7 separate regions of the Homo sapiens genome follow, and all the other regions are linked to region 1. Evidence: fine-mapped QTL for protein levels in blood plasma. A gene starts in region 1. Each other region holds a variant in brackets. All regions are shown on one strand. Distances are between the middles of the regions.

Region 1 (4,082 bases):
TTCTGCTTCCAGGACAGAGACAGTGAGGTTTGATGCTGTCTTGAGCAGCTCCGCCTTCACAGTCACCTGTGAAGGGCAGTGTTCCAGAAGCTCCACCCCAATAGTCACATTTCCTCCGGGCCTGATGATCCCTGGGGCTGTCACCAGAAACCGAGGCCTAAAGAGTTCCCAACAAGGGAAAAACAAAGTTTCTTATCCTCACATCTCCTTTCTTTTGTGACCCTCAGATTTCCTAGTGCGATAGGCACTCCATACTGCGCCAATTGCAGTTGTTTCCGTTAACATTGCCCACTGCTCTATTTGGCAACTGAATTGAAATGCTACTGAAACAACAATAATTCCCATAAATCAATTTTAATGCAGTAATTCATGCATCACTACTAGAGGAAGGCCTGTGTTATTATTTCCATTTTATAAACCACGAACCGCACAGAAGGAACCATGATGTAAATGGCTTGCACCGGGGCATAATGGAGTTATTGGCAAAGCAAAAGTCTCTAAGCTTCTCCTTTACAGAGGACCTTATCCCAGCGTGATTATTTTCTTGTTGTTGTTGTTATTTTTTAACTAAGATTTTGCCTGTTTCTTATTCAAACCTTTATCCTTGAGTAGCTGCCCAACGAGGGTAAAAAATTATTTAACCAATACCATTGATTGAAATATACCATTTGAAAATAAACTACAACTGGTGAAAATTCCAGGTATAGCGAATCATAAAAGAAGTCACTAAAGCAGCACTTTCTCTGCTATAACTAGGGGTTAGGGCTCAACTACAGAAATCTTTAGGAATGAATGGGGCTTGCCATTATTGGGTGCTGTTGTTTTCTTCCTATAATGTCTGCCCCTGAACCCATACATCAGTCCCCTCCGCCACACTTTGGCAATGCTAAGGTTGAGACATCTTGGTTAGAAAAAATATATCATGTCTTTGAGAGAAGAATCGCAATCTGGGAGCAAAAAGTTGAGAAGCAAAAGGCAGAGGCAATGTGGACTAAAAATAAAATGACTCTCTTCAGAAAGTTGTTATGGCCGGGGAGACGCTTAAACAACTTCATGAGTGGAGAAAGTTAACTGTCCCATGGAGAGCCACGCTGAAGCTACATATGGTCAAACCTCCAGGCCAGTACCAGGCTGGGGACTGCAGCCGCGAGGGCATTTCCCACCCGCTGCTGCACAGCAGCCGCCACCTCCCCGAAGCCCTGGCCCAGAGCCGCAGAGCGGCCCAGGCCCGCGCGCCCGCGCGCCCCCCGCGCGCCCACGTTCCTACCCGGGAGCCACGGCCAGCGCGGCGGTGCACACGCAGAGGAGGTGGGCGGCGGTCAGGAGCGGTGGGCCCTGCATCTCGACGGCGTCTGCCTGGGCTACAGTCCGCTGCCGGGGAAGTTCGCGGGCACCGTGGGGTGTGGCTTGCCACCTCCTCCCTGATTTTTTTTCCCTCTTAATTCGAGTTTAGTAATCTGAAATGGGCGCGCCTAACAGCAGAGTGAGAGATCTAAATTGAGACAGGACTTGGAGGCTCCACCCCTCCCATCCCCATTACAATGGCGCTTCTCGCTGCTGTGGCAAACATCGCAAATCCAGGGGGTGAGAAAGCAGTTGCTAAACGCAGGCGGCCCCACCTGGCCCGGCGTCCCAGCTGGCCGCGGAGAACAGAGCGCGCCCACTTCCCCGGCCCACCGGGTTCCTCAGGCTGTTTACACTAGCGCTCTACCAACGATGCCCAGGGTGAGTAAACAGGCCCATCCTTGTGAGGAGAAATTCATAGCAACTATGTGAAGTGGAAAAAAGTCAATCATTGTCCTCCAGACTATGAGTCAGAATTTTAGAGAAACGGCACACACACACACGCACACACACACGCACGCACACGCGCGCAAAACCGGGGCGTATTTCCTGGGTAGTTATTTAATGTATATGAATGGAAACAGAAAAACTATTTTTCCTTAAAACAAAAAATGAGGTCTACTGCTTTCCTTTCCAGGAAAATGTTATGATTTATCACCTTAAAAAAAAAAAGAAGAAGAGAACTCGCACTGCAGACGTTAGGTGTTGCTACTTGGAACCCTGAAAAAAAATTACCTAAGAAGATGCCTTTATATTTTTGCTACAGAAAGAATTTGGTAGAACTGTAAAGCTTGGAGCAATCTCTGAACACAGTTAGGGTTGGGTTGGCTCTCCTGTCAGAATGAAGGCCAGTGGCCGGTGGTGCCCAGGAGTTATTGATGCCCAACGCTGTCTGGCTTCTTTGCAGCTCCTCTCTCCTGCTCTCTGGCACTGCCACCATCTTCAGATGACTCAGGTTTCACCATGACTACACCATAAAAGCAGGGAACTGCCAGAAACTGTTGGAAAACAGACACATTCAGTCCCTGACAACTTAAACTTTCTAATTCATGGAGCGGTTTTAGATGGTAGCATTCTAATATGGGGCAAAATGCAAACGGAAAAGAGGTCAGCAAAAAGATGTCTCATGACAAAGCTATGTGCTAAATAAGGAAAAGTGAGAAAGTAGCACCTAGACAAACTGTGGTTTGGGGAATCCAGAAACTTGCTTTCCTCCCTTTCCTGTTCCACCCTTTTTCTCCCTGCTGAACAGCTTGCAAAGGTCCTTATGTCCTTTCCTTCAGGCAGCCTATCTTTAGTGGCCAACTTCCTGTGCAGGCAGGACTTAGGAATGGTCAAAAGTGTCTGTGTGGATCCCTGGGTGCTGACCTGTTCCTGACACAGCTGTTACTACTGGTCTCCTCACCTCCGTTGTTCAGAGAGGAGGACCATGGTCAAGGGTGGGCCAAGCACCAAGGTCTAACTCAGTGCTTCTCACATGCCAATGTGTGTGAGAATCACATGAAAACAGACTCTGACTTGGCAGGTCTGGAACGAGGACTGGGATTCTGCTTTACTTTAGCAGACAGTAGGCCATGGAGACTCTACAAGTGGGGGCAATTTGGGGGCAATTTGATGAGCAAAGGCAATTAAGAACACAGAAAATTCTTCTCAATCTTTCACTTCATAAAGGTGGATTAATAAATTCAGGTTCATTCTAGAGGTAGGCAAACATAAGAGGGACTGCAAAAGATTAGATGATAATGTTGCCTCCCGAGAAGACTTACAGAAAGTCTTAGAACCACATTGTATAAATCTGTGTGGATTTTAAAGTGATGCCACCTTCCTGTTTATGCCCTCCTTCCCACAATACACACTTGTCGAAAGGCGTAGTCATGCAAAAATTTAGGCATATGGATTTGCATAGAGATGAGGCTATTACATGCCTGGCACAGAGTAGCTATTCAATAAAAATGTGTTAAAAGGATTAATGAAAAATGTTCATCTCAGAAGTGGGATTTTTTATTAAGAAAAACTGAAAATGAGGCCAGGCGTGGTGGTTCACACCTGTAATCCCAGTAATTTGGGAGACCGAGGCGGGTGGATCACCTAAGGTCACGAGTTCGAGACCAACCTGACCAACATTGTGAAACCCCATCTCTACTAAAAATACAAAATTAGCCAAGTGTGGATGGTGGCACATGCCTGTAATCCGAGCTACTCAGGAGACTGAGGCAAGAGAATTGCTTGAACCTGGGCGTTGGAGGTTGCAGTGAGCCGAGATCGCAGAATTGCTCTCCAGCCTGGGCAACAAGAGCAAAACTCCGTCTCAAAAAAAAAAAGAAAAGAAAAGAAAGAAAAGAAAAAAGAAACACTGAAAATGGGCCGGGCATGGTGGCTTATGCCTGTAATCCCAACATTTTGGGAGGCTGAGGAAGGCAAATCACTTGAGGGCAGGAGTTCAAGACCAGCCTGGCCAAAATGGTGAAACCCTGTCTCTACTAAAAATACAAAAATTAGCCCAGCATGGTGGCACATACCTGTAATAAAAGCTACTCAGGAGGCTGTGGCATGACAATCACTTGAACCCAGGAGGTGGAGGCTGCAGTGAGCCAAGATGGTGCCACTGCACTCCAGTCTGGGTGACAGAGCAAGACTCTGTCTCAAAAGAAAAACTGAAAATGGTCTGAACATGTAACAATAAGATATTGGGTTTGCTGTCATTTGGATGTTTGTCGCCCAAAGCTGATGCTGAAATT
Region 2 (4,000 bases), 880 kb before region 1:
GTGTAACATCTGGTATTTCTAAATAAAACACCAGAAAACCTCTGAATCATAGTAGGAAGAACTAACTAAAATATCAAGTAGTGTAGAAATGATATACTTCACAGAAGGGGAAAAAAAAAAACCTTCCTGCTTGATATAATTGCTCTTTAGAGATCACAAACAATGCTTACATTCTTGCATCTGTGTGGAACAGATCCTTTATGGCATTAAAGGCCTAACTGTTCATTTGATGCCCATGTGTAATTCCTTTTAGAGAAACTAAAAATAAGCTTCCAACAGGCTTACTCACTCACATACTCCATTGTGTGGACAGACAGCAAACAGGGGCAGAGAGCTAAGCCTTGACCCACTTACCACCCTCAGATGGTTCTGATCAATGTCTAAGAACCTATTAAAACCTTACTATTAGGGGATTAAAGGAAATAACAGATTCATCCTGGTTCCCCAGAGCTTTTGCCTTTTTTGGGACAAAATGGGCAAGGTTTTTTGTTTTTTTTTTTTGTTTTTGTTTTTTTTTCCAGATCTTTCCCTGAAGGTATGCCAATGAAATTATATACTCTCATCCTATAAAATGTAGTCAAACTTGATACAGAAACTAGTTCATGAAGATCCACAGAATTCCTATATTGTTACCTAAGAATTACATTTTAAATTCAAATAATACAAGAACTATTCTTTGTTCATGCAGTATATTTGCTTGCCTACAAAAATAATCAGAGTTCCCTGAGCCCTTGTGTTTCAGCAGTTTACAATATTAAATGGTCAACCCCCCTGAGTCCAGCTATCCACATTGCTTGCCCCCATCCTTCCTCCAGGCCATTCACCTGGTTCTCAGGCCTTCTCAGCTGTTCTTTCTGTTCTGCTTTTTGGCTATCACACACTGTCTCCCTTCCTGTTTCTAATGGGTAGATAATTTATTGCTCTCCCCTTCTTGTTACACAGCCTCACTATGTGAGCCCATAGATTCCTTTGTAGGTGGTATTCCTGTTGTTGGACCTGTGGTCTCTCTGGCTGCAGGAAAGGGGTATTGATGATACCTCTAGAAACCTAAGCCACAGTCCAGGCTCCAGCCCTGAGATGCAGGGTCCAGCCTCAGTTTGGCCTCTCACCCACTTAATATAAAAACAATTATCCAGTGAATGAGCAAAGCTATTCTTGGACTTAGAATATTTCTACTGGGCTTTAAAACTTTCCACCTTTATATTGACACAGTCAATAAGTTGCTCTTATATTAAGGCAACATAAATTTATTTTTAGCAAAATTATGCTGATGCTTGATCATTAGACCAAACTCACAAAAATGAAAAAATAAATTATAAGTATTTAGAACTTAATTATTGGTTTCCAGTTTGATACTGAGCTTAAGGACCTGATAAAAGTGTCTTTACATTTCCATCATTGACTGATCTTTCTACAGACAAGTTTACTCTGTTTCTATTCAAGCTCTGATAATCACTAAACCAAGAGGTTTACTTCACACCTTCTTTTATTTTCCTTGCTTCCCTATTGTACAATAGCAAAAGCCTGGACCGGTGGGTACACCAGAGATATCTTGTCCCTAGCCCTTCCTTAAATATTTCATATCCTCAGGTACTGTTTGCCCTCACTTGCTTTTCTTTCTCTTTCTTTTTGCCCTCACTCAGTTGCTTTT[CTTTTT/T]TTTTCTTTCTTTTCTTAGTCTTTTTTTTTTTTTGGTAGTGGCATGATCACGGCACAGTGTAGCCTTGACCTCCTAGGCTCAGGAGATCCTCCTGAGTAGCTGGGATTACAGGCGCCTGCCACCACACCCGAATAATTTTTTGTATTTTTAGTAGAAATGGGGTTTCACCATGTTGGTCAGGCTGGTCTCAAACTCTTGACCTAAGGTGATCCACCAGTCTCGGGCTCCCAAAGTGCTGGGATTACAGACATGAGCTACCGCAGCTGGCCTGAAGTGTATTTTCTAAAATAATCTATAAGTTCTCCATATAAGATCTTATTAAATACTTGAATCAATGACAAAACAATAAAATAATTTGTTTCTGATGCCTAAGAAAAATAAAGCTTTGCTAATAGTTACCATATTTGTAGATACATAGAATTTCAATTTAAAGGTTATGGTAATGGTTGAATTTTTCAACGTATTTCTTGATGGAATTTTTCCATATATAATCTGATTTTTCTGATGAATTATTTAATCTGTTTCAATGTGCTTTAAAATTGGGGGAAAAGGTTATGATAATGTATGGAAGCAGTATGGTGCTGTTGGTGACTCAAATTTAGGTATATTTATTACTTGGGTAGAAATTGAAAGAACTTGTAACATTTGCATTCTTTTGTATATAATTAAATACCACATGTATATATAATTTTAAATTTTTGCTAGCTTTTCACACAATTAACTTATTTGATCCTCTTAACAAATTCATAAGGTAGATGGGGTATATTTATTTTTAATACTATTTTGGAGACAAGTAAACTGGCATTAGAGGGGCTATATGGCTTTGGATTATGGTCTCATAAGTCATGCTCACTGGCACCATTCATTCCTTCATTCAAAAAATAGTCATCCCACTATGTTCCCATCACCCTTCTAAACAATGGGAATATGGTGATGAGCAAGATAAAAAATGTTTCTAAACTGATGTGCTTTAACCTCTGTTTCATCTGATAATAGAGATACCAAAGCTAAATAATTGTTTGAGCCTTGGATATGTTATTAGTACAGCGACCATAGAACTTATTGTCCAAACCAGGATACTTAATTATGAAATGAGGAGCTCTTTAAAAATATGCTGGTTCAAGAGGCATAAACTAGGGACTCTCTTGCAAACCAATCAGACTAATGGTCACCCTATTTATGGAGGCAGTCCCTTGATAAGCAAACCACTAGAGAACACCATCCTACTTATTTTTTAAAAGTTTCAGTCTATGGAATCAACCTAAATACCAAAGACTGGATAAAGGAAATGTGGTACATATATACCATGGAATACTGCACAGCCATAAGAAAGAATGAGATCATGTTCTTTGCAGTAACATCATTGGATCTGGAGGCATTATCCTAAGCAAGCTAATGCAGGAACAGAAAACCAAATATTGCATGTTCTCACTTATAAGTGGGAGCTAAACAATAAGTACACATGTACACAAAGGAGGGAACGATAGACACTGGGCCTACTTGAGGGTGGAAGTTGAGAGGAGGGTGAGGATTGAAAAGCTACCTATCAGGTAGTATACTCATTACATGGTTGATGAAACAATCTGTATGCCAAACCCCCACAACATGCCATTTACCTATATAAAAAACCTGCACATGTACCCCTGAACCTAGAACAAAAGCTAACAATAAAAATTAATAAAAGTTACAGTCTAATAAGAATTTCAAAATCTGACCTTCATTATTTTAGGGACTTCTGAATACACTGCTTTCCTCTATCAATTAAACAGGAAACTGCAGACTGAAGCAATAGGATGTTTTTGGGTGTAAGAAATAGAAAACTCAACTCAAAACTTGCTTATTCAGTTAATAGAATGTAATATCCTAAAATGTCTACAGGTAAAGCTGGCTCAGGTAGAGGCTTTATCTAATGGCCCAGCATCGACACGAAGGACCTGGTTTTGGTCTATCTCCTCGTTTGTTTTGATATAGGCTTCATCACAGGCAGTTACGCCTCAAGACCACCAGATGGCTTCCATAATCTCTCAGTTCTACAAATTCCTATAGTCCCATCAAGTAGGACAGTGTCATTGTCTTAGCAGAAAAAGTTGTTATAAATGTTCATCATTTATAGCGGCTAAGTTTATTTGACTATTTTGAACCATTCTCTGCATCTGGAGGATGAAGTGTGCTGATTGGCTTATCCTAATGTGATGTTTAATACTGAGTGTCAACTTGATTGGATTGAAGGTTGCAAAGTATTGATCCTGGGTATGTCTGTGAAGGTATTGCCAAAGGAGATTAACAGTTGACTCACTTAGATTTACTACCATATTTGGTAATGCAACTTCTTCTGCATGTGTG
Region 3 (4,082 bases), 560 kb before region 1:
ACCTTCCCCTAGAGAAATGTCAGGACTGACAGATGGACCCTAGTTTGTGATCTCTATGACCAGAGTGGGTTCTGAGGCAGGACCAACCCTTACGGTTGAGCAGTCTGAGCATCTGACAAAAGGGAATGGTGGGTAGTCTGGTAACCTGCCCCTAACCTGCTCATCAGAGATGGTTTGCTGAACCAGGAGAAAGCTTGGCCCTTTCTAATTATAAAATAAAGCAGAATTTCACTCAAAAAAAAATAAAATAAAATAAATATCTATAGATAAATAAAACCTACCTCTTTTTTCCATATTGCCCCAATGCCATTCTTATGTAATGAAACATTTAATTAATCATGAGTGTCATGATGATCAGTTATTAATAATAGAAAAGAAGTTAGTATATTAAATCCTAATGTTTAATAAATGAGAAAAAGAATAAAGCAGCATATTAATAGAGTAGATACAGAAAGAACAAATGAAGAAATTTTGGTATAATGTTATTTAAAATACACTTTCAAAGGTGCATGTGATATACAGCTATTTCTCAAACTTACTTGCCAGAAGCTCTTCTTCTGTTGTTTATATATATATATATTTATTTTGTCATTTGGCTTCTTGTGGGACTGTATTCTAACAACAGTTCTTTGCTTGGCCAAACTTTAGTCAGGCTTCTGGACTTTCTCCTGGGCCTGTCTGTGCACATCATTCTAAAACCCAGTTTTAGCAAATAATACGGCCAACACAGTTTAGCAAGAATTATTCATCCTTGATATCTGATCACCCTCAGTATCTGATCAAAATTTTTCTCTGCCCACTCCTGTTAGCTGATCACCCTCGCCTGTTTTCAGCAGGAATCCTGTTAGGTTGGTTCTGCCAGAATTTCCCCCAGACTTGGTATCTCTTCTTAAAAATTTTCTGAGCATTTTTTTCATGTGTTTTTTGGCTGCATAAATGTCTTCTTTTGAGAAGTGTCTGTTCATGTCCTTCACCCACTTTTTGATGGGGTTGTTTGTTTTTTTCTTGTAAATTTGTTTGAGTTCATTGTAGATTGTGGATATTAGCCATTTGTCAGATGAGTAGGTTGCGAAAATTTTCTCCCATTTTGTAGGTTGCCTGTTCACTCTGATGGTAGTTTCTTTTGCTGTGCAGAAGCTCTTTAGTTTAATTAGATACATGGATGAAATTGGAAATCATCATTCTCAGTAAACTATCGCAAGGACAAAAAAACCAAACACCGCATATTCTCACTCATAGGTGGGAATTGAACAATGAGAACACATGGACACAGGAAGGGGAATATCACACTCTGGGGACTGTTGTGGGGTGGGGGGAGGGGGGAGGGATAGCATTGGGAAATATACCTAATGCTAGATGATGAGTTAGTGGGTGCAGCGCACCAGCATGGCACTTGTATACATATGTAACTAACCTGCACATTGTGCACATGTACCCTAAAACTTAAAGTATAATAATAATAAATAAATAAATAAATAAATACATAAAAATTTTCTGATCCCTGCTCTTTGGCTATAAATCCCTACTTATCCCTGATGTATTTAGAATGAAGCCCAGTTCTATATGGGGGTCTCTCTTCCCCTATTGCAATAGTCCTGAATAAAATTTCCCTTTACCACTTTAATTTCTGTCTCTGCTTTTTTTTGATAGTCCTAAGAAATGTGTTTGAAAAATATACCAACATTACCTGACAAAATTTATAGGGCAAGTTGGTACATTGTAGCCTGAAATTCTACTCATTCAATAAAATTTAAGGGACTATTATGTGCTCTTCTACAAGTAAGGACTAAG[G/A]TGATGTTATAATACACAGGCATTTTCCTTAATGAGTTTCCAATGAAGTGGTCGTTTTAGTTCTTTCAGCAAGAAATTACTATCAGCTCCGTATCTAAAGGGGCTCATGTAGTAAAATAAATTAAACCTGTCTCTGAAGTAAAATGTTAACATAATTCCTCTTCTGTAATTCTTTGTTCTCTTCACATAAGCAACTGTTACTACTCTAGACACAGATAAACTGTTAGATGGAATTCTCCAAGAATAGTTCTTACCAGCTTTACCAGCCCTAAGCATTAAAGCTGCATCTGAAAGGAAACCTAGTAGACATATTTACCTGCAAAGACACCTGGAGGCATTACTAACCCCAGAAATTTATGAAGACAACAGCAGAATTCTCAAGAATCACCATGCACGTTGTAAAGAAAAGCTGCTTCTCTTCACAGTACCATGTTTTTTCATACTACCTGACAGAACTAAATATAAGTCTTCCATTAACCCCAAGGTGTGCAGAATCAGGGGACAAACGAGACATAAAATTCGCAGATTTTCATTTTGAAAGCACAGTCTAGCTGTATCATAGTAATATTTGAAGGAAAATGTGATAACATGGGAATTTTTTATCACCACCTTCTACCCCAAAACTACCTAAAAACACTTAGGTCCTAGAAGGTGGAGGGCACCTTTTAGGTGCCCCAGGCAGATCTCTACTGAAAGATAGATTTAGAGGAGTCCCAGAGTAGAAGAAGTGTACAGTCTGCCTGTCCGGACTGTAAGGGTGGCAACCTTGCCAAAGTTTCTCCTACCTCCCTGGTAAAGTGGGGACAGAATGGCTGCAGGGGAGCCTGGCCAGCTGGCCTGTAGCCCAGAGAATCTTCCACAGTCCCATCTTAAAGTGCCAAGTAAAATAGCAAAGGAGCCTGATACTAGCTAAGAAACAATCTGTAGATCTGGAGAGGCCATGTCACCAGGAGCAGAGCTCAGACAGGCAAACACAGGCATCTGGACAGGTGCCAACATGGATTGATAGTTCTGCCAAAGCTGGAGATCTTAGATGCTTTCTTTTTTTTTTTTTTTTTTTTTTTTTTGAGATGGAGTCTTGCTCTGTCGCCCAGACTGGAGTACAGTGGCCCAATCTTCACTCATTGCAAGCTCCACCTCCCGGGTTCATGCCATTCTCCTGCCTCAGACTCCCGAGTGGCTGGGACTACAGGCATCTGCCACCATGCCCAGCTAATTTTTTGTATTTTTAGTAGAGACAGGGTTTCACCGTGTTAGCCAGGATCGTCTTGATCTCCTGACCTCGTGATCCGCCCACCTCGGCCTCCCAAAGTGCTGGGATTACAGGCGTGAGCCACCGCCCCTAGCCAATCTTAGATGATTTCATGAAGAAAAGGACAGAGAAATGGGAATTAAAAAAAAACACTTGGTGAAACATTGGATGATGTCTAGGCTCACCTGGAATTATCTAGATAAAGTTTCCTACTATCTAGCAGAAAGAGGGCTGGCTAAGTGAGCTCAAATTGATATGCAAGAAAAGGGAAGGAGTTACATTTTTCACATACCCCTGTGAAAATAGTGGCCACTAAACAGTGACCTATGGTATGTTTAGTAAGTTCTGATATTTACCTCTAATTCTTCCTTACCAGAAAACTGGTAATAACTAACCCAGAGTAAGCAAGACAAAGAACCTATTCTTTTCTGGAATCTCTTTGTGACCCTCTTGTCCCCTGCTATCAGCATTGATATGGTTGCTAAAAGATTACTGCATTTCTAAGAAATCATCTTTCACTTGTACATTTTTAAATCATAGTTTTTAAGTGTTGAATTATCAGCGGGTTTCTATAAAAGTTTTGGCTTCCTGCCATTTTACTCAACAAAATACTGCCTGTGTGTATGCAATGCTGCAGCCTTATAATTTAACTAAACTAAATAATTTGTGTTTGTATTTCTGAGGACTGTATTCTCTCTGTTCTAGCAGAAATCTTGTGAATATTAGACAAGGGAAAAGAAATCATGAGTAATTCTAATGGAAAGAGTCAAATACTATTTGTCACTTAAGGAGACTCACTAAGTACCTTCTGGGTTGTGGAAAGAGGGTGAGAAACAATAAATGAATCTGAGCTGAAAAGTAGACCTTCCATTGCATACTTATGTGAACAATGGAATTCTTACATAGCACCGTTAAAAATTACTCCAGAAGTAGCAGCCAAGAAACATCTAATATCAAACAGATCACACCAACTTCTAAAGACAGTTACCACTTTATACTGCAATCACTGATTTCCTTGCCTATTTTCTAAACTAAATTA
Region 4 (4,082 bases), 750 kb before region 1:
TGGCTAAGTTTAAAGATACTTGGTGATTGCCTCTAGAATTGCAGACTCAACATACCTAAAAATAAGAATCAGTCTCCAAAGGTTTTGCCAACTCAGTGCAACCCAGTGATTAAAAGTCTTCAAACAAAAACATACCCTATTTCCTACATTTTAAAAATATGTATTTTTCACATTTTGGCATACCTGATGTTGGAATTTACCTTAAAAATATCTGCCTATGTAATCTATTCTCATTTCATTGGGACATCTTATACCTAATTGTTGCCCAGCATATAAAAAATTATGACACATGACTGAATAAAAACCAAATAATTCTTTTAAAACAGTGATTATTAATAAAAACACATAGCTGCTTATATTTAAGTGATGACATAAGAATAAAAAATATATGGCCAGAAAAATAATAAAGCAAGTGTTCTAAAATTTTAAATCTTTAATGAGTGAGTATGAAAATAAGATTATAACACATACATATCTGCATAATGGACAGTGAGTTTTTCCAGAAAATTAAATTCATTATCCATTTGTATTAAGTAACATTGCTATGAAAAATAAAAGTAATTTGTATAAAACTAAGCAATTTCTTACATCAGCCAAGGATTCCATTACTAGGGACTTAACTAACATTTAAATATTAGACTAAAGAATTGGTGTCACTGTTCTTTAGTGATATGATAGTATAACTAGAAAGCTTAAACACTCATCCAAAAAGCTTCTAGATTTGATAAATGCATTCAGTAAAGTTTCAGGATACAAAATCAATACATACAAATCACTAGCATTGCTGTACACCAACAGCAACCAAGCTGAGAATCAAATCAAGAACTCAACCCCTTTTATAACAGCTGCAAAAAAAAAAAAACAACAACAAAAAAAAAACAGGAATATACCCAACCAAGGAGATAAAAGATATTTACAAGGAAAACTACAAAATACATCTGAAAGAACTCATTGATGACACAAACACATTGAAACACATTCTATGCTTATGGATGTGTAGAATCAATATTGTGAAAATGACCATACTGCCAAAAGCAATTGGTAAATTCAATGCAATCCCCATCAACGTAACCATCATAATTCTTCACAGAACTAGAAAAAACAATCCTAAAATTCATATGGAACCAAAAAAGAGCCTGTACAGTCAAACAAGACTAATCAAAAAGAACAAATCTGGAGGCATCACATGACCTGACTTCAACCTATACTATAAGGCTATAGTTACAAAAACAGCATGGTACCAATATAAAAATAGGCATGTAGAACAACGAAACAGAATAGAGAACCCAGAAATAAAGCCAAATATTTACAGCCAACTGATATTCGACAGAGCAGACAAAAACATAAAGTGGAGAAAGGACACCCTATTCAACAAATAGTACTAGCATAATTGACAAGCCACATGTAGAAGAATTAAGCTGGATTCTCATTTCTCACCTTATATAAAATCAACTCAAAATGGATCAAAGACTTAAATCTAAGACCTGAAACCATAAAAATTCTGTAAGATAAAGCCAGAAGAACCCTTCTAGACATTGGTTTAGGCAAAGAGTTTATGCAACAAAAACAATGATAAATAGATGGTACCTAATTAAACTAAAAAGCTTCTGCACAGTGAATAAATAATCAGCAGATTAAACAGACAATCCACAGAGTGGGAGAAAGTATTTACAAACTATGCATCCAACAAAGGACTAATACTCAGAATCTACAAGGAACTCAAACAAATAGGCAAGGAAAAATCATAATCCCATCAAAAGTGGGCAAAGGACATAGACAATTCTCAAAAAAAGATATACAAATGGCCAAAAAACATCAAAAAATGCCCAACATCACTAATTATCAGGGAAATGCAAATTAAAATCACAATGAGATATTGCCTTACTCCTGCAAGAATAGCAATAATTAAAAAATCAAAAAATAACAGATGTTGGCAGGGATGTGATGAAAAGGGAATACTTTTACACTGCTGGTGAGAATGTAAACTAGCACAACCACTATGGAATATGGTATGGAGATTCCTTAAAGAACTAAAAGTAGAATTACTGTTTGATCTACCAACCCCGTTACTGGGTATCTACCCAGAGGAAAAAAAAATGTCATTATATGAAAAAGACACTGGCACACATTTATAGCAGCACAATTCGCAATTGCAAACATATGGAACCAGCCTAAATGCCCAT[T/C]AACCAATGAGTGGATACAGAAAATGTCGTATATATATGCTATGGAATACTACTCAACCATAATAAGAAACAAAATAATGGCATTCACAGCAACCTGGATGGAGTTGGAGACAATTGTTCTAACTTAAGTAACTCACAAACGGACAACCAAACATCGTATGTACCCACTTATAAGCGGGAGCTAAGCTATGAGGATGCAAAGGCATAAGAATGATGTAATGGATTTTGAGATCTTGAGAGGAAGGTTGGGAGGAGGTGAAGGATGAAAGAAAAAAATAAAGAATTGATGTCATTGTGCAAATGATATAGTCCACAAGTAAAATCCAAGATTTGTTCTTAATGTCTTTAATAAATCATAAATGGAATACAGAAAACCAGAAATGCCCTTAATTTGTAAAAAATGGGAATCAATGTAACTGATTTGATTTTGCATAAAGTTTTACAATCAAAATATAAAATATTACTTTGATGAAAAACTCTGAATCTTTATATCTGGGGTCAACTCTAGGAAAAACAGCAGATAGTCAATTCAGTCTTTCACTTCACCTCCTACCTCCACCATGAACACCATCCCTGCTTGCTTTTTATAGAGGGAATGTGTTTTTTATTATTAAACCTTAATGAAGAAGAAAATCCTGCCATTTAGTTAACATGGGGGTGAACTTTGCAGACATTATGCTAAGTGAAATAAGTCAGACAGAAAGACAAATACCTGTACTAAATGATCTCAGTTATATATGAAATCTAAAATAATCAAACTCATAGAATCAGAGTTCTGCTGGATTTTGCCAGGGGCTGGAGGGAGGGGGAGACGGAGAGATGCTGGCCAAATGCTACAGACTTTCAGATATCCAGTATGAATAAGTTCTGGGGAGCTGATGTACAACATTGTGACTATAGTTAACAATGTTGTATACTTGAAATTTGTTAAGAGGGTGGATCTTAAGTGTTCTCACCACAAAAAAAATAAATAAATAAATAAAAAAGAAGCCCAAAAGTAGAAAAGAAAATGGATACTATGTGGTATAATGGATATGTTAATTAGCTTGATTGTGGTGATTGTTATTACTGTTATTTATTTTTTATTTAATTTTTTGAGACGGAGTCACACTGTCACCCAGGCTGGAGCACAGTGGGCATCATCTTGGCTCACTGCAACTTCTGCCTCCTGGGTTCAAGCGATTCTCCTGCCTCAGCCTCCCAAGTATTTGGATTACAGGCACCCGTGTCCATGCCCAGCCAATTTTTTGTATTTTTAGTAGAGATGGGGTTTCACTATGTTGGCCAGGCTGGTCTCAAACTCCTCATCTCGTGATCCGTCCACCTCGGCCTCCCATAGTGTTGGGATTACAGGCGTGAGCCACCGCGGCTTGCCTGTGGTGATTATTTCACAATGTTTACATGTATCAAAACATCAAGTTTTGATTGATATGTATATGTATATATATATATATATATATATATATATATATATATATACACACACACAACTTCTATTGGCCAATCATACCTCAATAAAGCTGGGGAAAAAAATGAAAAAAAAAAAAAACAAGATACTTCAGCACAGCCCAGGGAAGAGGAAATATAGTGTGAGACACATAACAGAGAATAATCCAAACTGAAAAAAGAAGTTGCTGTTATTTGAAAAGCAAAACAAAAGTCACCATTATATTAAAACAGGTTTTATCAATTTCAACAGAGGAAAAGTTATACATTTATATCAGAACTCCACTATGTAGTTTTTTAAATGCATTTTGCTATTTGTAATTATGCTTAAAATTCTCTAGTAATTGTTAGTTATAATCCTATAAAATGGATCAATAATTTTTAATAAATGTTTTCTATTATATTTATGAAATCATGTGTTAAATCATTTTTTAGGCATTGCTTTAAATACAT
Region 5 (4,082 bases), 650 kb before region 1:
GACACCTCACACAGCTGGGTACCCCTCTAAGACAAAACTTCCAGAGGAACGATCAGGCAGTAACATTTGCTATTCACCAATATTCACTGTTTTGCAGCTCCACTGCTGATACCCAGGCAAAGAGGGTCTGGAGTGGACCTCTGGCAAACTCCAACAGACCTGCAGCTGAGGGTCCTGACTGTTAGAAGGAAAACTAACAAACAGAAAGGACAACCATGCCAAAACCCCATCTGTACGTCACCATCATCAAAGACCAAAGGTAGATAAAACCACAAAGATGGGGAAAAAGCAGAGCAGAAAAACCGAAAATTCTAAAAATCAGAGAGCCTCTCTTCCTCCAAAGGAATGCAGCTGCATTCACCAGCAATGGAACAAAGCTGGATGGAGAATGACTTTAACAAGTTGAGAGAAGAAGGCTTCAGATGATCAAATTTCTCTGAGCTAAAGGATGAAGTTCGAACCTATGGCAAAGAAGTTAAAAACCTTGAAAAAAAGATTAGATGAATGGCTAACTAGAAGAACCAATGCAGAGAAGTCCTTAAAGGACCTGATGGAGCTGAAAACCAAGGCATGAGAACTACATAACGAATGCACAAGCTTCAGTAGCCAATTCAATCAACTGGAAGAGAGGGTATCAGTGATGGAAGATCAAATGAATGAAATGAAGCGAGAAGAGAAGTTTAGAGAAAAAAGAATAAAAAGAAATGAACAAAGCCTCCAAGAAATATGGGACTATGTGAAAAGACCAAATCTACGTCTGATTGGTGTACCTGAAAGTGACGGGGAGAATGGAACCAAGTTGGAAAACACTCTGCAGGATATTACCCAGGAGAAACTTCCCCAATCTAGCAAGGCAGGCCAATATCCAAATTCAGGAAATAAAGAGAACGCCACAAAGATACTCCTCGAGAAGAGCAACCCCAAGACACATAATTGTCAGATTCACCAAAGTTGAAATGAAGGAAAAAATGTTAAGGGCAGCCAGAGAGAAAGGTCAGGTTACCCACAAAGGGAAGCCCATCAGACTAACAGTGGATCTCTTGGCAGAAACTCTACAAGCCAGAAGAGAGTGGGGGCCAATATTCAACATTCTTCAAGAAAAGAATTTTCAACCCAGAATTTCATATCCAGTCAAACTAAACTTCATAACTGAAGGAGAAATAAAATACTTTACAGACAAGCAAATGCTGAGAGATTTTGTCACCACCAGGCCTGCCCTACAAGAGTTCCTGAAGGAAGCACTAAACATGGAAAGAAACAACCAGTACCAGCCACTGCAAAAACATGCCAAATTGTAAAGACCATCGAGGCTAGAAGGAACCTGCATCACCTAACGAGCAAACTAACCAGCTGACATCATAATGACAGGATCAAATTCACACATAACAATATAAACTTTAAATGTAAATGGGCTAAATGCTCCAATTAAAAGACACAAACTGGCAAGATGGATAAAGAGTCAAGACCCATCAGTATGCTGTATTCAGGAAACCCATTTCACATACAGACACACACATAGGATCAAAATAAAGAGATGGAGGAAGATCTACCAAGCAAATAGAAAACAAAAAAAGGGAGGGGTTGCAATCCTAGTCTCAGATAAAACAGGCTTTAAACCAACAAAGATCAAAAGAGACAAAGAAGGCCATTACATAATGGTAAAGGGATCAATTCAACAAGAAGAGCTAACTATCCTAAATGTATATGCACCCAATACAGGAGCACCCAGATTCATAAAACAAGCCCTTAGAGACCTAGAAAGAGACTTAGACTCCCACACAATAATAATGGGAGACTTTAACACCCCACTGTCAACATTAGACAGATCAACGAGACAGAAAGTTAACAAGGATATCCAGGAATTGAACTCAGCTCTGCACCAAGCTGACCTAATAGACATCTACAGAACTCCCCACACCAAATCAACAGAA[T/A]ATACATTCTCCTCAGCACCACACCACACTTATTCCAAAATTGACCACATAGTTGTAAGTAAAGCACTCCTCAGTAAATGTAAAAGAACAGAAATTATAACAAACTGTCTCTCAGACCACAGTGCAATCAAACTAGAACTCAGGATTAAGAAACTCACTCAAAACCACTCAACGACATGGAAACTGAACAAACTGCTCCTGAATGACTACTGGGTACATAACGAAATGAAGGCAGAAATAAAGATGTTCTTTGAAACCAATGAGAACAAAGACACAACATACCAGAATCTCTGGGGCACATTTAAAGCAGTGTGTAGAGGGAAATTTATAGCACTAAATGCCCACAAGAGAAAGCAGGAAAGAGATAAAATTGACACCTTAACATCACAATTAAAAGAACTAGAGAAGCAAGAGCAAACACTTTCAAAAGCTAGCAGAAGGCAAGAATTAACTAAGGTCAGAGCAGAACTGAAGGAGATAGAGACACAAAAATCCCTTCAAAAAATCAATGAATCCAGGAGCTGGTTTTTTGAAAAGATCAACAAAATTGATAGACTCCTAGCAAGACTCATAAAGAAGAAAAGAAAGAAGAATCAAATAGACGCAATAAAAAATGATAAAGGGGATATCACCACCAATCCCACGGAAATACAAACTACCATCAGAGTATACTATAAACACCTCTACGCAAATAAACTAGAAAATCTAGAAGAAATGGATAAATTCCTCAACATATACATGCTTTCAAGACTCAACCAGGAAGAAGTTGAATCTCTGAATAGACCAATAACAGGATCTGAAATTGAGGCAATAATTAATAGCTTACCAACCAAAAAAAGTCCAGGACCAGATGGATTCACAGCTGAATTCTACCAGAGGTACAAGGAGGAGCTGTTACCATTCCTTCTGAAACTATTCCAATCAATAGAAAAAGAGGGAATCCTCCCTAACTCATTTTATGAGGCCAGCATCATCCTGATAACAAAACCTGGCAGAGACACAACAAAAAAAGAACTTTAGACCAATATCCCTGATGAACGTCAATGCAAAAATCCTCAATAAAATACTGGCAAACAGAATCCAGCATCACATCAAAAAGCTTATCCACCATGATCAAGTGGGCTTCATCCCTGGGATGCAAGGCTGGTTCAGTATACACAAATCAATAAATGTAATCCAGCATATAAACAGAACCAAAGACAAAAACCACATGATTATCTCAATAGATGCAGAAAAGGCCTTGGACAAATTCAACAGCCCTTCATGCTAAAAACTCTCAATAAATTAGGTATTGATGGGATGTATCTCAAAATAATAAGAGTTGTTTATGACAAACCCACAGCCAATATCATACTGAATGGGCAAAAACTGGAAGCATTCCCTTTGAAAACTGGCACAAGACAGGGATGCCCTCTCTCACCACTCCTATTCAACACAGTGTTGGAACTTCTGGCCAGGGCAATCAGGCAGGAGAAGGAAAAAAAAGGCATTCAATTATGAAAAGAGGAAGTCAAATTGTCCCTGTTTGCAGATGACATGATTGTATATCTAGAAAACCCCATCATCTCAGCCCAAAATCTCCTTAAGCTGATAAGCAACTTCAGCAAAGTCTCAGGATACAAAATCAATGTGCAAAAATCACAAACATTCTTATACACCAATAACAGACAAACAGAGAGCCAAATCATGAGTGAACTCCTATTCACAACTGCTTCAGAGAATAAAATACCCAGGAATCCAACTTACAAGGGATGTGAAAGACCTCTTCAAGAAGAGCTACAAATAAAACTACACTGAGTTTTATTTTCATTGAGAACTACACTGCTCAATGAAATAAAAGAGGATACAAACAAATGGAAGAACATTCCATGCTCATGGGTAGGAAGAATCAATATCATGAAAATGGCCATACTGCCCAAGGTAATTTATAGATTCAATGCCATCCCCATCAAGCTACCAGTGACTTTCTTCACAGAACTGGAAAAAACTACTTTCAAGTTCATATGGAACCAAAAAAGAGCCCACATTGCCAAGTCAATCCTAAGCCAAAAGAACAAAGCTGGAGGCAACATGCTACCTGACTTCAAACTATACTACAAGGCTACAGTAACCAAAACAGCATGGTACTGGTACCAAAACAGACATATAGAC
Region 6 (4,082 bases), 860 kb before region 1:
AATACAGAGTTGAAACAGGCAGAATTTATTGATTTGGTCCACTAAGTAGGGATTCTGCTTTTAATGTCACAGCTCGAGGAGTTAAAATAGTTCTAATAGTTTATTTGCTTGGTTAGCTGAAATATAGATTAAAAGATGGCCCACTATGAGCCAGCTGGAAATGCCTGATCTTCCTTGGTTTAATGTAGAGGAAAAGATCCAAAGGCTTAGGGACATTTGGATAGTGGAGTGCATTACTTATTTAGACCTACTCATCCCAGCTGGGAGGGTTCAGAAAATATCCTCTTGACCAGTGCCTTGAGAAATAGATTTGTGAAGGCAGCACCTGCATCTGTGAGTGAAGAGCCCTGTAATTGCTCTTCTCTGTATGTCAGATCTAAGAGTGGAAACGACAGTCACTCGACTACAAAATTTAAATACAATGGGAATTGGATCTTGAGGTGTCAGGAGCCACGTGGCGGCACTCAGCCATCAAAGGCAAGGTGGGCATAGCTACCATAAAGGATAGCAGAGGCAAAATACCAATCATAATAGTCTGACTTCTGTAGAGCTCTGGCCTTTTCTAATTAATCACAGTGTTCCTGGAAGTGAAATTGATAGGAAGCCTACTGCATTCCTACTTAATTTATATAAATAGAAAACTTCTAGGTCAATTGAACAAAAGACTAATTTGAATTATAAAAACAGATAATCAAGGCCCCTCAGTCAGTTTCCAGACTTGAGCCAGTTTACAGACCCAGAACCCCTTGAATGAAGGGAAGACCAGGTCTCTGTGAAGAAGGACCCCACTACATTACCAACAATTGATGCAATGAATCTTTCTCCCATCCTTCCCCAAGGAGACCACTGGCCTTTTAACAGGGTAACTGTGCATTGGGAAAAGGCAAATGATCAGATATTTCAGGGAGTACTGGACACTGGCTCTGAGCTGCCAATGATTCCAGGGGACCCAAAACGTCATTGTGGTCCTCCAGTTAAAGTAGGAGCTTATGGAAGTCAGGGAAATAATATAGTTTTAGCTCAAGTTCAACTTACAGTCGGTCTAGTGGGTCCCCAGACTCATCCTGCGGTCATTTCCCCAGTGCCAGAATGCATAATTGGCCTAGACATACTTAGCAGCTGGCAGAACCCCAACGCTGGCTCCCTGACTGGTAAGATGAGTGCTATTATGGTGGGAAAGGCCAAATGAAAGCCATTAGAGCTGCCTCCTCCTGGAAAAATAGTAAATCAAAACTAATATTGCATCTCTGGAGGGGTTGTGGAGATTGGTGTCACTATCAAGGCCTTAAAAGACACAGGGATGGTGATTTCCACCAAATCCCTATTCAACTTTCCCATTGGCCTGTGTAGAAGACAGATGGATCTTGAAAGATGACAGTGGATTACTGTAAGCTTAACCAAGTGGTGACTCCAATTGCAGCTGCTTTATCAGATGTGGTTTCATTGCTTGAGCAAATGAATGCATCTCCTGGCACCTGGTATGCATCCACTGACTTGGCAAATGCCTTTTTCCCCATTCCTGTCCATAATGCCCATCAGAAGCAATTTGCCTTCAACTGGTAAGGCCAGCAATAACCTATATTGTCCTACCTCAGGGGCAGATCAACATTTGGGTTTGTGTCATAATCTTATACAGAGAAATCTTGATCACTTTTTGCTTCCACAAGATATCACATTGGTCCATTACATTGATGACATTATGCTGATTGGATCCAG[C/T]GAGCAAGAAGTAGCAAACACACTGGACTTATTGATGAGACATTTGCATGCCAGAGGATGGGAAATAAATCCAACTAAAATTCAGGGAACTTCTACCTCAGTAAAATTTCTAGGGGTCCAGTGGTGTGGGGCCTGTCGAGATATTCCTTCTAAGGTGAAGGATAAGTTGCTGCATTTGGCCCCTCCTACAATCAAGAAAGAGGTTCAATGCCAAATGGGCCTATTTGGATTTTGGACCCAACATATTCCTCATATGGATATGTTACACCAGCCCATTTATCGAGTGACCTGAAAGGCTGTCAGTTTTGAGTGGGGTCCAGAACAGGAGAAGGCTCTGCAACAGGTCCAGGCTGCTGTGCATGCTGCAGTCCCACTTGGGCCATATGAGTCTGCAGATCCAAGGAGGTGTCAGTGGCAGATAGAGATGCTGTTTGGAGTTTTTGACAGACCCTGAGAGGTGAATCACAGCAGAGGCCTCTAGGATTGTGGAGCAAGGTGCTGCCATCCTCTGAAGATAACTACTCTCCTTTTGAAAGACATCTCTTGGCCTGTTACTGGGCTTTGGTGGAAACTGAACGTTTGACTATGGGTCAACAAGTCACCATGTGACCTGAACTGCCTATCATGGACTGGGTGCTTTCTGACCCATCAAGCCATCAGGTGGGTCGTGCACAGCAGCATTCCATCATCAAATGGAAGTGATATATATGTGATCAGGCTCAAGCAGATCCTGAAGGCACAAGTAAGTGACATGAAGAAGTGACTCAAACGTCCATGGTCTCCACTCCTGCCACCTTGTCTTCTCTCCCCCACCCTACACTGATGGCCTCATGGGGAGTTCCCTATGATCAGTTGGCAGAGGAAGAGAAGACTAGGGCCTGCTTCACAGATGGTTCTGCACAATATGCAGGCATCACCAGAAAGTGGACAGCTGCAGCACTACAACCCCTTTCTAAGACATCCCCAAAGGACAGCGGTGAAGGGAAATCTTTCCAGTGGGCAGAACTTCTAGCAGTGCACCTGTTTGTGCACTTTGCATGGAAGGAGAAATGATCAGATGTGAGATAATATACTGATTTATGAACTCTGGCCAATGGTTTGCCTGGATGGTCAGGGACTTGGAAGAAGCATGATTGGAAAATTGGTGACAGAGATTTGGGGAACAGGTATGCGGATGGGTTTCTCTGAGTGGTCAAAAACTGTGAAGATCTTTGTATCCTATGTTAGTGCTCACCAGTGGGTGACCTCAGCAGAGGAGGATTTTAATAATTGAGTGGATAGGATGACCCTTTCTGTGGACACCACTCAGCCTCTTTCCCCAGGCACCTCTGTCATTGCCCAATGGGCCCATGAACAGTGGTCATGGTGGTAGGGATGGAGGTTACACATGGGCTCAGCAACATGGACTACCACTCACAAAGGGTGACCTGACTACATCCACTGCCGAGGGCCCAATTTGCCAGTAGCAGAGATGAACACTCAGCCCTCGATATGGCACCATTCCTTGGGGTGATCAGCCAGCCACATGGTGGCAGGTTGATTATATTGGACCTCTTCCATCAGAAAGGGCAGAGGTTTGTCTTCACTGGAATAGACACTTCCTCCGGATATAGGTCTCTGTTTTGAGCCACCTAAACCTGACGGTGGTATGACATAAGCCCCCTTCTGGTCACCACCACTATGACTGCACTGGGTCAGACCTGTGGTCAGCATAGTCCTGGGCCTCACCAAGGCCTTCTGTAACTAATCCCTTGCTATTACACATTTTCACTCAACACCCTGACACTCTGCAATCAGCATGTGGCAAAGCCAGTCAGACCTGCATCCTTTCCTCCAGAGCAGCAAGTTCCCCTTAGGCCCGGGGTAAGTCCAGAAGTGCCATCCGGAAGTCAGAAATAAGGCTCAAAAACCTTAGCAGTCTACCTTATGTTCTATTGAACTGCGGTTGAGCTGGAACTCTTACCACAAGATGCAGTCTTTCCCACCATTCCCTCCCCTTTCCAAAGGTAGAGGAGCCTCACCTGCTACCGGCCATGAGAAATATTGCCAGACTACCATAGATATTCCCTTAAGGCCCACCCAAGGGCTCTTAAGTAAGCTTGTGCTGAATGCTGCTTGTCCTGAGACTCACCCTTCAGGGCAGTGGGCTCCCCTCTGGCCCAGGGCAGGTTCAGAGATGCTGTCCAAGAGTCCAGTCCTGCAAATGGGGACCTCGGGAGCCCATTTGGTGTTCTACCCCACTGTGGCCATGCTGGTATCTACAGTGCAAGACAAAGTTCCCTTTACCTTCACTGTAATTGTCTCAAGCAGACTCTTTTTCCTGTAACCATCAGAGCTGGTAATGTGCTGAGTCTCACCTGAAGCGA
Region 7 (4,082 bases), 520 kb before region 1:
TAGCTGGGTGTGGTGGTGCACTCCTATAGTCCCAGCTACTTGGAAGACTGAGACAAGAGAATTGCTTGAACCTGGAAGGCGAGGTTGCAGTGAGCCAAGATCACGTCACTGCACTCCAGCCTGGGCAACAGAGACTCCATCTCAAAAAAAAATATATATATATATATATGAAAAATTTTATGACAATAAATTTGACAATCAAATAACATGTACAAACTTCCTGGAAGACACATAATAAAATTCACTAAAGAAGAAATACATAACCTCAAAACTCTATAACTATTGAAGAAATTAAATTTGTAGTTAACACTTTTTTTTGTTTCAAAGACATCTCCAGACCTAGATTGCTATAGAGGGGAACTCTCTCAGTCTTTAAGGAAGAAATAATACTAATTCAACACAGTCTCTGAGAAAATTAAAGAGAAGAAAATATTTTCCAATTCATTCTATAAAGCCAGTGTTTATACTGATAACAAAACTAGAGAAAACCATTATAAGAAAAGAAAACTATAGGCAAATATTTCTCATGAATCCAAATGCAATCTTTTTTTTTTGAGACGGAGTCTCGCTCTGTTGCCCAGGCTGGAGTGCAATGGCGCGATGTCGGCTCACTGCAACTTCCACCTCCTGGGTTCAAGTGATTCTCCTGTCTCAGCCTCCTGAGTTGCTGGGATCACAGGCGCCCACTACTACACCTGGCTAATTTTTAGTATTTTTAGTAGTGACGGGGTTTCACCATGTTGTCCAGGCTGGCCTCAAATGCAAAAATTCTTAACACAAATTTTAGCTAATCCAATCTAGCAGTATATATACATAATACAGCATGACCAATTGAGATTTATTGTGGAAATGCAATACTTGTTCAGCATTTAAGAATTAATTGTATAAAAAGAAGAACCATATGATCACCTCAACAGATGCAGAAAAAGCATTTGAAAAAAAATCCAACATTTATTTGTGAAGAAAAGAAAGGAAAAGAAAATTCTCAGCAAACTAGGAATAGAAAGAAACCTCCTCAACACAATAAAGGAGATCTGAGAAAATCTAAAACTGACATCATACTTCATGGTAAAGCTTAGATGATATCCCCTTAAGCTTGCTCTGACCTTTTCTATTAAACATCGCACTGGAGCAATAAAATTAAAAAAAAAAAAACTAAAGTAATACAGATTGAAAAAGAAATAAAACTGTGTTTATCTGTGTGGAAAACCTGACAAAATATACATAATTACTAGACATAATAAATCAATTAATAAGTTTGCAGGATAAAGACCAACATACAAAAAAACTATTTCTACATATTTGTAATGAATAACTAAAATATTTTAAAAATAATTACAATCATATCGAATATTATAAACTATTATTTTAACATCAAATTAAAATATTTTTATCTTTGAAATACATACTTAAGAAAATAAAAAAGATAAGCCATGAACTGGAAAAAATTATTTCAAAACATACATCTGACAAGGGGCTTATACAGAGAGAATATATAAAGAATTCTTACCATGTAATTAGAAGACAATTCAATTACAAAATGGTCACAAGGCTTAAGCAGACAGTTCATGAAAGAATATATACAAATGTAAAAGCAGCATATGAAAAGATGCTCAATATTACTAGCTATCGGGAAAATGTAAATTAAAAATCACAATGACATATCACTACATATTCACTGAAGTGGCTAAAATTTTTAAAGATTGATCACATCAAGCACTGTTGAGACTGTGAAGCCACTGGAACCCTTGCTCATTGTTAGTAAGAAGGGAAAATGATACTGCCACTCTAGGAAATAGTAGGGCAGTACTTTACAAAATTTTACGTACACTTATCATAGACCCAGGAATCATCCAAGACAAATGAAAACACACAAAGATGTACACAAATGTTCAGTGCAACATTAATCATAATAGTCCAAAACTGGCAACCATCCAAATGCCTAAGTAAATGTATAAGCAATGTGAGATATATCCATATAATACTACTACTTACCAATAAAAAAATACTAATGTTCAAAACAACATAGATGATTCACAAAACCATCATGCTAAATCAAACAAGTCTGACTCAATAGACTGCGTACTATTTAATTCCATGTATATGAAACTCTAGAAGAGGAAAACCTGAAGTGGCAGGAAGCAGATCAGTGGCTGCCTACAGCCAAAGGTCAGGGGAGGGGATCGATTGCAGAAGTATAGGAGAAAACTTTTCAGAGGGATCTTGGTGCTGGTTGCACAACTCTGTACCACTAAGAAAATTCAGC[G/A]AACTGTTGATTTAAAATAGCTAAGTTTTAATGTATGTAAATTATACCTCAATTAAGCTGAGACAGATGATAGAGAGGGAGAGACAGACAGACAGATAGATTGGGAAAGCCAGCAGCACTCCCCCCAGTGTGCTCTTCAGTCTGCCATAATTTACCAGTTGTAGTGGCTTATTCAAATTTGAGGACTTTTGCAATTCCTTTCCTTGTAATTCTCCATAACTATGGCACCTACTTTGCACATCCAGCTATGAGTTGGTATCTATTCTCAACCTTGCAAACTGCAACTTTTCAAGGATATTTTATTGAATTCAATTAGGATCAGAGAAATCCTGATTCCTAATTGATGGCAAAAGTACCATCAACTGACAGTGTTAAAATGACAGTGTTAAAAAAATGTTAAGAACTTGCTTATTCACTTATGAGTCCTACTGAAGCATAATCATCATTTTATTATTCTAGTACCTTTGTTGAAATCATAAAAATATAGAATACTTTCCATAGATGGGACTCAAATGTGCATCTGGTTTCTTTCTTTGTTTTTTTCTTGTTTTGTTTTTTAAGTCTTTGATGAAATTTGGAACTACTGACTCACAGTTCCTTTGCCAACGCTGATTTTCTTTTTATTCTCTTCATTTTTGTGAGTCTTAAGAATGATTTAATTTCCATGTATATTGCCTTTTACCATATAGATGATTTGTCTAATATTTTGACAGCCATTCTTATGAAGTATTATATTTAACTTACCTGAAAATCTTCTAAGAGAAGAAAACTGAGATTTACTTTACTTTCTAAATGACTGATTTAAGGTCAACATAATTATAATAGTAAATTGCAATTATTAATAAAGTTTTCAAAAATGCAAATATAGATAAAAATAAACAACAGCAAAATTGTTAGCCACATATATTGCAAAAAAGAATACATGGTCCAATAATTAGTTATTATGAGATATTCTATCATAACAGAAAGAGTTTACAAGAGAAAATGTTGATTTCAATCCTCAAGAAGCTTGCAATCTCAATCATGATACAAAGCATAACCATATAAAACTTTTAGTCAACATTTAGTATAATAGTTCTTTTTATACTATGCAATTTTAATTTTCTTTATATAAATCCACTTGGCGAAAAATGTATTCTTTCCCAGAACTTCTTTGAAATAAGTTTTTTTCACCTAGACCAATCTACTAAAACTTGCATAGAAAAATATATGTATAGAAAGTATTTCTAAAAGAATTATTCTCTTGTGATATAAGAAAACATTATACCAAAGGTAGTATAAGATGAATAATAGTGAAGTTTCTTTTATTATAAATCCTTTCAAATTTAAATAAAAGAAAATGATCCCGGCATGGTTGCTTATGCCTGTAATCCCAGTGCTGTGAGAGCCCAAGGCAGGAGGATCAATTGAGGCCAGGAGTATGATGCCAGAAGTGTGAGGCCAGCCTGAGCAATATAGTGAGACCCTGTCTCTGCAAAACATTTAAAAGTTAGCCAGTGTGTGGCACACGCCTATAGTCCTAGTTATTCAGGAGGCTGAGATAGGGGCATTACTTGAGCCCAGGAGTTCAAGGTAACAGTGAGCTATGATCATGCCACTGCACTCTAGCTTGGGTGACAGAATGAAACCTTATCTCACACACACAAAAAAAAAGAAATTATAAATTTCAGAATTCTTAAAATTATTTGAAAAATCCGTGTGTGTGTGTGTGTGTGTGTGTAAGGATGGAATATTATATTTTCTAATTATCCTTTTAGGCTGTAAAATGATTCATTAAGTAAGTCTGTTTTCCTCCCCCAAAGAACATACAAAATAA

Direction of the effects. Alleles are on the strand shown, and positions count from the first base shown. The strength of an association depends on the size of the effect and on how common the allele is.
With allele CTTTTT in place of T in region 2, the plasma level of the protein whose gene starts at base 1,354 in region 1 is lower (moderate association).
For the plasma level of the protein whose gene starts at base 1,354 in region 1, allele A in region 3 goes with a lower level than allele G (moderate association).
With allele C in place of T in region 4, the plasma level of the protein whose gene starts at base 1,354 in region 1 is higher (moderate association).
In carriers of allele A in region 5, the plasma level of the protein whose gene starts at base 1,354 in region 1 tends to be higher than with T alone (moderate association).
With allele C in place of T in region 6, the plasma level of the protein whose gene starts at base 1,354 in region 1 is lower (moderate association).
With allele G in place of A in region 7, the plasma level of the protein whose gene starts at base 1,354 in region 1 is higher (strong association).

Evidence for each region. PIP is the posterior inclusion probability: the model's chance that the variant is causal. The UK Biobank Pharma Proteomics Project read protein levels with antibody pairs (Olink). The fine-mapping took linkage between variants from a reference panel, not from the people measured, so its PIPs are less certain.
Region 2: its variant is fine-mapped to the plasma level of the CD109 protein (UK Biobank, PIP above 0.99).
Region 3: its variant is fine-mapped to the plasma level of the CD109 protein (UK Biobank, PIP above 0.99).
Region 4: its variant is fine-mapped to the plasma level of the CD109 protein (UK Biobank, PIP 0.93).
Region 5: its variant is fine-mapped to the plasma level of the CD109 protein (UK Biobank, PIP above 0.99).
Region 6: its variant is fine-mapped to the plasma level of the CD109 protein (UK Biobank, PIP above 0.99).
Region 7: its variant is fine-mapped to the plasma level of the CD109 protein (UK Biobank, PIP above 0.99).

Annotation. Positions count from the first base shown.
Region 1 is chr6:73,693,475-73,697,556 of GRCh38, reverse strand. It overlaps CD109 (CD109 molecule), which reads right to left and starts at 1,354. Exons shown (of 33, transcript NM_133493.5): 1 at 1,268-1,354; 2 at 1-157. The coding sequence starts at 1,341. CD109-AS1 (CD109 antisense RNA 1) reads left to right here and starts at 1,426. Exons shown (of 2, transcript NR_110889.1): 1 at 1,426-1,725; 2 at 1,982-3,654. RefSeq lists a silencer at 1,185-1,234 and enhancers at 797-1,511, 1,465-1,724.
Region 2 is chr6:74,574,678-74,578,677 of GRCh38, reverse strand. The region is part of intron 2 of LOC101928516 (a long non-coding RNA gene); the gene reads right to left. Among named protein-coding and RNA genes, the nearest start is that of SNORD156, 550 kb to the left of the region's middle. The variant CTTTTT/T (reference allele first, on the strand shown) is at 1,652.
Region 3 is chr6:74,250,186-74,254,267 of GRCh38, reverse strand. All of the region lies in intron 1 of LOC101928516 (a long non-coding RNA gene), which reads right to left. Among named protein-coding and RNA genes, the nearest start is that of CD109, 560 kb to the right of the region's middle. The variant G/A (reference allele first, on the strand shown) is at 1,792.
Region 4 is chr6:74,447,375-74,451,456 of GRCh38, reverse strand. All of the region lies in intron 2 of LOC101928516 (a long non-coding RNA gene), which reads right to left. Among named protein-coding and RNA genes, the nearest start is that of SNORD156, 680 kb to the left of the region's middle. The variant T/C (reference allele first, on the strand shown) is at 2,184.
Region 5 is chr6:74,339,104-74,343,185 of GRCh38, reverse strand. The region is part of intron 1 of LOC101928516 (a long non-coding RNA gene); the gene reads right to left. Among named protein-coding and RNA genes, the nearest start is that of CD109, 640 kb to the right of the region's middle. The variant T/A (reference allele first, on the strand shown) is at 1,932.
Region 6 is chr6:74,554,781-74,558,862 of GRCh38, reverse strand. All of the region lies in intron 2 of LOC101928516 (a long non-coding RNA gene), which reads right to left. Among named protein-coding and RNA genes, the nearest start is that of SNORD156, 570 kb to the left of the region's middle. The variant C/T (reference allele first, on the strand shown) is at 1,717.
Region 7 is chr6:74,212,139-74,216,220 of GRCh38, reverse strand. The region is part of intron 1 of LOC101928516 (a long non-coding RNA gene); the gene reads right to left. Among named protein-coding and RNA genes, the nearest start is that of CD109, 520 kb to the right of the region's middle. The variant G/A (reference allele first, on the strand shown) is at 2,267.